Regions from separate parts of the Homo sapiens genome. Here region 1 is reported to be linked to region 2. The links are microRNA targets in miRTarBase. Many come from high-throughput screens and were not tested one by one. Region 2 holds a microRNA gene; the other region holds the end of a gene's coding sequence.

Region 1 (3,268 bases), not on the chromosome of region 2:
ACTAACAGTCACCAGCAGCTGGTTCACGCATTAAGGCCCTTTGCAGGTGAAAGAAAACGGCACTGGAGGGCCGACTGCAGAAGCAGACGCAGTGCACGGTGGACATCTGCCCCTTTTGGGGGCCTGCCACGGTGCTTCCTGAAAACTCAGGTTAAGCTGACTCTGCTGTCAGGCTGATGAGGCGCCTGCACCCACCTTTGCTCAGCACGCCAGCCCAAATGGAAGAGCAGGTGCTATGACAAAAATCAGTTCTTGTAGCAACTATTTTTGATACTGAAACTGAAAAGCGAGAGCAGCAAAGCTATCCACGGAGCTCCTGACAGTTAGGCCCGGCTTTGGCTGCTGATGCAGGGGCCGAATGACGCTATTTCTGCAGCAGCCGGCCGCAGGCGCTGACCCACCGCGGGATGTGCCCCAGGAGGCAGAAGAAACGCTGGGAACCGCACCTAACCTTGCCAGCATCCCCCAGGCAAAGCCAGGCACTTTGAGTTCATCGGTGGAGTTGGGCGATACTCCTTTCCCGTTTGTGTGCTTAGCTGCTGCCAACAGGATGTGCTGGGTGAAGCCTTACAGAACACAGCCAGTTGTGTTTTATAAAGCAAGGCTCCCCTCCCCCAAAGACAAATAAAACCACAGGTGTGGAAGGGACACCCTCCACCGCACCCCGCCCTAGTAATCTGACACCGCAGGCAAAGGCACGGCCTGTGTGGGTAAGATCCATTGTAAACGTTTAAAACTTCCTGTTCCCTGATGCCTCAACTTCCCCGCAGACCGACGCACCTGTGATGGGCAGGGCCGTGTGACCTCGTGACCTTCACATACACCAATGAAGACCCTCACGCCTTCTGCTGTCTTTCCCCCACTGCTGACTTGCCTGCGGGCCCCCACTATCTGCCCTGCCTCTGGAGCCGCCTCCCGTGTGCCCCCCCAGGCCCCTTAAGGTGCTGTGCGTCCCATCTGGAACCGGCAGTTCACCCGCTCTCCCAGCCACCCTTCCAGACCCCACTTACAACACACGACTAAGTAACACAGTACAGGCCGTGTATTCGTATTTGTTTTCCTGTGCCAACTCATCTGGTATCTTCGTATTTTAATGAATAAAACTGAAAGATGACAACTTGAAGCCCCAGTGCATTCCTCTCAAATCGAGTGAAGTTTACAACACCTTAATTATAAAAGATTTATCTGATCCAGAAGAAAGCAGAGTGTACAGAAACTTCACTGTCATCTGCGAATGGACTGAGAGCATCTGGATTTGGTTCTCAGCCTGAATGAGCATCCTGGAATGGTGTGTCTCGTCCATTTACGTGGAGACACATGGAACAGGCCTGCAGGCTTGGGGCTCTGAGCAGGGCTCCCAAAGCCCCTCAGCTGCAAGGAAGCCAGGCCCATGAGAGGGGAGCCTGTTCCAGAAACACAAGAGGATGAAAGCTGTTATTGGCAAAGGAGACTTAGAGCAAGGAAATGACCAGGAATAAAAAAAGATTATATATTTAGAGGCCAGGTGTGGTGGCTCATGCCTGTACTCCCAGCACTTCAAAAGGCCAAGGCGGGTGATCACTTGAGATCAGGAGTTCGAGACCAGCCTGGACAACATGGCAAAACCACATCTCTACTAAAAATATTAATACAAAAAAGCTGGATGTGGTGGTGCACACTTGTAGTCGCAGCTACTCAGGAGGCTGAGGCAAGAAGATTGTGTGAACATGGGAGGTGGAGGCTGCTGTGAGCTGAGAACAACAAACCCCACAAAAACTAACTTCAACAAACATTAAACTTCACTACACACCGAGTCCAGCAGTTCTCCACCCATCTTTCTATTCCATTTCTCTCTCTCTGCCTCAACCTAGGGCAAGATAAGCTTGACCTGATGGGTCATGGCTCTGTACAATAGTTTAGTCTTAAACAACTAAGATGCTACGTATCTAAGAACACTCATGACTCAAAGGCTTGCAAAGGGCTCTTTAAATTTGCTCTTTTAATGCATAAATAAATCCATATCATGTATTACTTTCTGGAAAAGGGTTAAACTCAAATATCCGAAATACTTTCATTATACCAGGTCAAGAAAAATGCCACAGCCAGAAAAATTTATTTTAAAATAGAAACATACATTAAGCTTTAAAACAACCAACTCTCAAACAAAAGAGGAAAGAGCCTTTGATCCCAGAGTCCATGCGGAATGAATTCCATACGTGTTTGAAATTCACATAAGGAGCACTTAGAAAACCACCTGAAATGGAAATCCAACAGCCCCCTTGCCTGTGAGGGCTCCCACCCCTGCCCGCGTGAGGACATGGCCGAACCCCGGACACTCGTGTGCCGGGAGCCACCACAGCTCAAGGTGACCGGCAGCACCCAGCTCTGTGACCAAGACAGATGTTCACACGTGGGGGCATCGTAAGCGCTACCAGCTCCAAATCTGACGTGATGGGAACTTGGGAGATGTCTGAGAAATGTCCGAAGGGATTTTGGCAACACAGAAAACGCAATGTCTAGGAATTCCTCCAAATGCTTCCAAAAATACTCATTGACAATTCAAGTTGCACTTGGCTGGCGGCAGCCCGGGCGGCCTTCAGTCCGTGTGGGGCGCCCGCGTGGCCTTCTCCTCGTAGGACTCCCCAAACTCGTTCACTCTGCGTTTATCCACAGGATAAAGCCTGCAATGACACAAATGAGCACATCAGCAAACCCCACTGCAGGGGCTATTTTTCTAAGAGGAGGACTTGGCATCCTCGATTTATTTTCCAGTGAGCTGCCACAGTGAGCAAATTAACTAAAAAGTCGAATCCTCAGAAGTTTTACTGCCGAGGGCTGAGGAGGGATTTCTGAGTTGTGTTTTGTTCTGCATGGCCAGGCCAGCGTGCTGCTCTCAAGGAAAGGGAAGCTTGGCCGAAGGGACGACCCGGAGGCTGCACGGGCTGCCATGGCTGAAGGGGGGACCCGGAGGCTGCACGGGCTGCCTTCTGGGAACGGTGGCATCACGGAGACTCGAGTGATCAGAACAGGAACCGCTGTGTTCAGGGACCACGTCTCATCAGCTGTGAACACTTGGCAGGACACTGCCGCCGCCTTTGATCCTGAGCGCCCCGGAGGCCTTGCCAACATCACCCCTACGTATGGATGAGGAAGCTGTGGCATAAGGGGCAGCTCTACACGGCCGCGAACAGAAGTACAGGGTTTCAGCTTAAAAACAGACCTGCTGCCCACCAAGGGCCCTGTGATCCTGGCCAAACACCGTTTGCAGGTCTGGAGCCATTAACACAGA
Region 2 (3,268 bases):
GGTGGCTCACACCTGCAATCCCAGCACTTTGGGAGGCCGAGGCGGGTGGATAGCTTGAGCCTAGGAGTTTGAGAACAGCCAACATGGCGAAACTCTGTCTCTTAAAAAATAAATAAAAACATTAGCCAGGTGTGGTGGTTTGTGTCTGTGGTCCCAGCTACTTGGGAGGCTGAGGTGGGAGAATCGCTTGAACTGGGAAGATGGAGGTTGCAGCGAGCCAAGATCGCACCACTGCACTCCAGCCTGGGCAACACAGCAAGACTAGGTCTCAAAAAAAAAGAAAAAAAAAAAGAAAAGAAGAGAGGTGGGTTCTTCTTGCCCATGCAGTTGTGTTGGGGGAGGAGCTCCCAAGCTCCTGTTCTTGATCTCAAGCTCCCCTATGCCCACTTCCATCCCCACCCCCATGCCGCAGCCCCTCGGACTCCACACCCAGGCACTGAGACCCACAGATGCAGCGATGGCAAGGCCTGTCATCCCTTCTCTACCACCAAGAGCTGTGCAATCCCCAGAAGTCACTGTCCCTCCCTGAGCCTCAGTTTCCCCAACTGCAAAATGAAAATAACAAAACCTTTCTGATTCCCTTTCCAGGGTGGCTGCGGTGGTTGAGCCACACGCGGCCCATGTGGAAATGTCTGGGGGGTCCCTCAGATCTGGTGGCTGTGTTCTGGTCTGGGGCTCACCTTGGCTCCTGAGCACTTGGCTCCTGGCTGGCTGGGCGGGTGGTGGGATGGCGTGTCACCGCCCTGCACTGGAATGAATGGTCACCACCCTGCTGCCCAACCCCATACAGACACACTAATGGCTCCAGACTTGGGGCAAGTGCTGAAGGGGGCTCTAGGGTATTTCCTAGAGCCTGAGCCCTCCCCTCAGCTGCCATGTTCTGCTGAAGCAGAGTCCCTGGGAGGCGCCACTGGTCAGGCCTGGACACCTCCAGGTGACTAAGTGGGTAGGACCGGCAGGGCCAGCTGCGCCAGGACGTTCGGGGCTGGGCTGTGAGTGGGGGGAGCGAGGCTCAGGCCCTTGCTGCGTGAGGGGGTAGGGCGTCCCTCCCCCCGCGTGGGAAATGAGGAGGCAGGTACGGGGCTACCCCTGTGGGCTGCGGGGTGGGGGTTCAGGGTCTGAGAAGCAGAAACCTCCCTCCCTCCAGTTTCACTTTCTCTTTACCCCTCCCCTTCCCCCTCCCACGAAGTTCCCTTTGAAGTGAGAGGGGCTGGGGTGGGTGTGTCCAGCCCAGCCCCCACACCCACCGGAGAGCTAGCGCGGCCCTGGGCTCCTGTCGGGCGCTGGTCCTCACCTGTTCCGGCCACCCTGGGCCTCGACCCGGCCAAGGTGGAGCCCCGGGCCCTCCGTGCGCCCGAGCACCCCCGGCCCAGACGAGACGGTTCGGGCGTGGCCCGGCGGGGACCCAGAACCCGGGAGGCCAGGTGCGCCCAGGCCAGGCGCTGGAGGCTGGGGCGCCGGATGGGGCGGGGCGGCCGCTGAGTCAGGGCCACCCCCGCGCGGGCGCGCGGAGCAGGTCCCCGGGCCGTGGAGGATCAGTCGCGGGACCTATGGGCCCGGGAGCCGCCCCGCCCGGAAAAACCGGTCGGGCCAGCGCGGCGCGGGCACATTCCGGCGCCGGGAAGGGCGGCTGCGCCGCATAAAAGGCGCCGCCGCGCTGGCCACCGCCGCTCGGAGCTCAGCCGCCCTGCCACGCGGGGCCCGCGGGACGAGGGGACGCCGGGGCCAGCGAGGACGCGGCGGGGCTGGGCTTGGCGGCTGGGATCCCCCAGCGCCAGGCGAGGGCGTCTAAGGCGTCCGGTACGGCGTCGGGGCCGGGTGGCTGCAGCAGGGCAGGGGGTGCGCGACCAGCGGGGATCTGGGCGCAGGGGCCGGTCCCCGGGATCCGCAGGCGACGCGGGCGGTCCCAAGGGCGTCGGGGGCTCCTCTCTCCGCAGCTCGGCGAACCGACGGTGTTGGGGACTCGCGCGCTGGGTCCAGTGGTTCTTAACAGTTCAACAGTTCTGTAGCGCAATTGTGAAATGTTTAGGACCACTAGACCCGGCGGGCGCGGCGACAGCGACGGAGCGTCCCACGCGCGGCCTGGAGTCAGAGTCACAGTCAGGGGTGCGCCGGCGACCAATCCAGGGGAGCCCACGGACCGGCTCCGCGCTCCAGGTCGGCCGCCCCATGCGCCGCGCCCCGCAGTCCCCAGGGCCTGGCTGGCTCCACCTGCTGCCAGGGAAGACCCTCGGCCGGAGAGCCAAGTGCTGCTGGGAGGTGGCCGGGCGTGGCCGGGCTGTGCTGTGGGAACCGCTGGGTGGGGGCGCGCTGGGTTGCCCACGCTCCTGGCGCGCTGCCGGCCTGGAGACGCCGCCGCCGCCCTCTTGCACCCCGAGGGCCCGCACCTCGAAACTCCGTGGAATTCCCAGCGAGGAACTGGCGGTGGGCCCGTAGGGTTGAGGAGCGCTCCTTGCCCTGGGCTTCCTGGGAGCTGCCCATCAGGCTGCCGGCAGCCGCACCCTGCTGGGCGGCCGATGGTTCCCGCTGCCGGCTCCCCGGAGCGTCTCCACTCACTGAGGCCTTAGGGAGCGCTGCGCGGCTCCTACGAGTGCGCGCTAAACTCGTGAAGGACCTCGAGGCACAGGAACTGGGGGTGGGGAGGAAGTTTGCAGACTACACCCAGGTAGAGGAGAAGCGGCGCCCATGATGACAGGTGCCTTCGCCGGAGCCTCCCTGGAACCTCGTGGTAGCTAGCGCCCACAGGAGAGGTGTGCGCGTCAATCTGCGTGTGAAGCCCCGGGCGGCCCTGGGAGGGACTCAGCAAAGGGTCGAATCTGTCCCCACCTCCAGCCAGGGGCCGGGGTCTTCTGCCTGGTGCTGCCTGGCCTGCTGTGTCCTCTGGGGTGGAGGGTCCCCCTCCAGTCCCCACCTCCTCACCCAGTGTTTAGAGAGCTGCGGGGAGTCCTGGGAGATGGGTCAGACAGGCCTGGGTTTGAGGCCTGCTAGGGTGGCCTTGGGCCAGTCACCTGCCCTCTCTGAGCCCGACCTGCACACATAGGGGGTTGATGTGAGGAGACAGGAGGTGACTGTGGAGGGCTGTTCCAGAAGAGGGCCAGCAGCAGGACAGCAAGGTCCCCTGGCCACCCAGGTGGGGGGAGTGGAGTTCCCGGGAGAGCATCCACCACTGGCCAGTGCCTCCTCTGTTGCTCAGCAAATGCCATTGTGGCCACCTCTCAGGATCTGGCTTCAGAGCTTGGGGCCGTGGGAGCGCCCAGTGGGTCTGTGG

What was found. The annotated mature microRNA hsa-miR-203a-3p reads GUGAAAUGUUUAGGACCACUAG and lies in region 2 at 2,017-2,038, shown strand. An mRNA with a match to its seed (bases 2 to 7 or 8) in the 3' UTR can be bound and repressed. Matches are read on the target gene's strand: a 7mer-m8 pairs with bases 2 to 8, a 7mer-A1 pairs with bases 2 to 7 and ends in A, and an 8mer does both.
Region 1: the mRNA of CLPTM1L is a reported target of hsa-miR-203a-3p. Seed matches in the 3' UTR shown: 7mer-m8 at 2,235-2,241 and 7mer-A1 at 2,200-2,206.

What each region holds. Positions count from the first base shown.
Region 1 is chr5:1,315,794-1,319,061 of GRCh38, forward strand. It overlaps CLPTM1L (CLPTM1 like), which reads right to left. Exons shown (of 17, transcript NM_030782.5): 17 at 1,959-2,660. The coding sequence ends at 2,576. Among named protein-coding and RNA genes, the nearest start is that of MIR4457, 8.1 kb to the left of the region's middle. RefSeq lists enhancers at 123-512, 803-952.
Region 2 is chr14:104,115,453-104,118,720 of GRCh38, forward strand. MIR203A (microRNA 203a) reads left to right here and starts at 1,953; the gene lies at 1,953-2,062. MIR203B (microRNA 203b) reads right to left here and starts at 2,051; the gene lies at 1,966-2,051. It overlaps ASPG (asparaginase), which reads left to right. Exons shown (of 16, transcript NM_001080464.3): 16 at 1-130.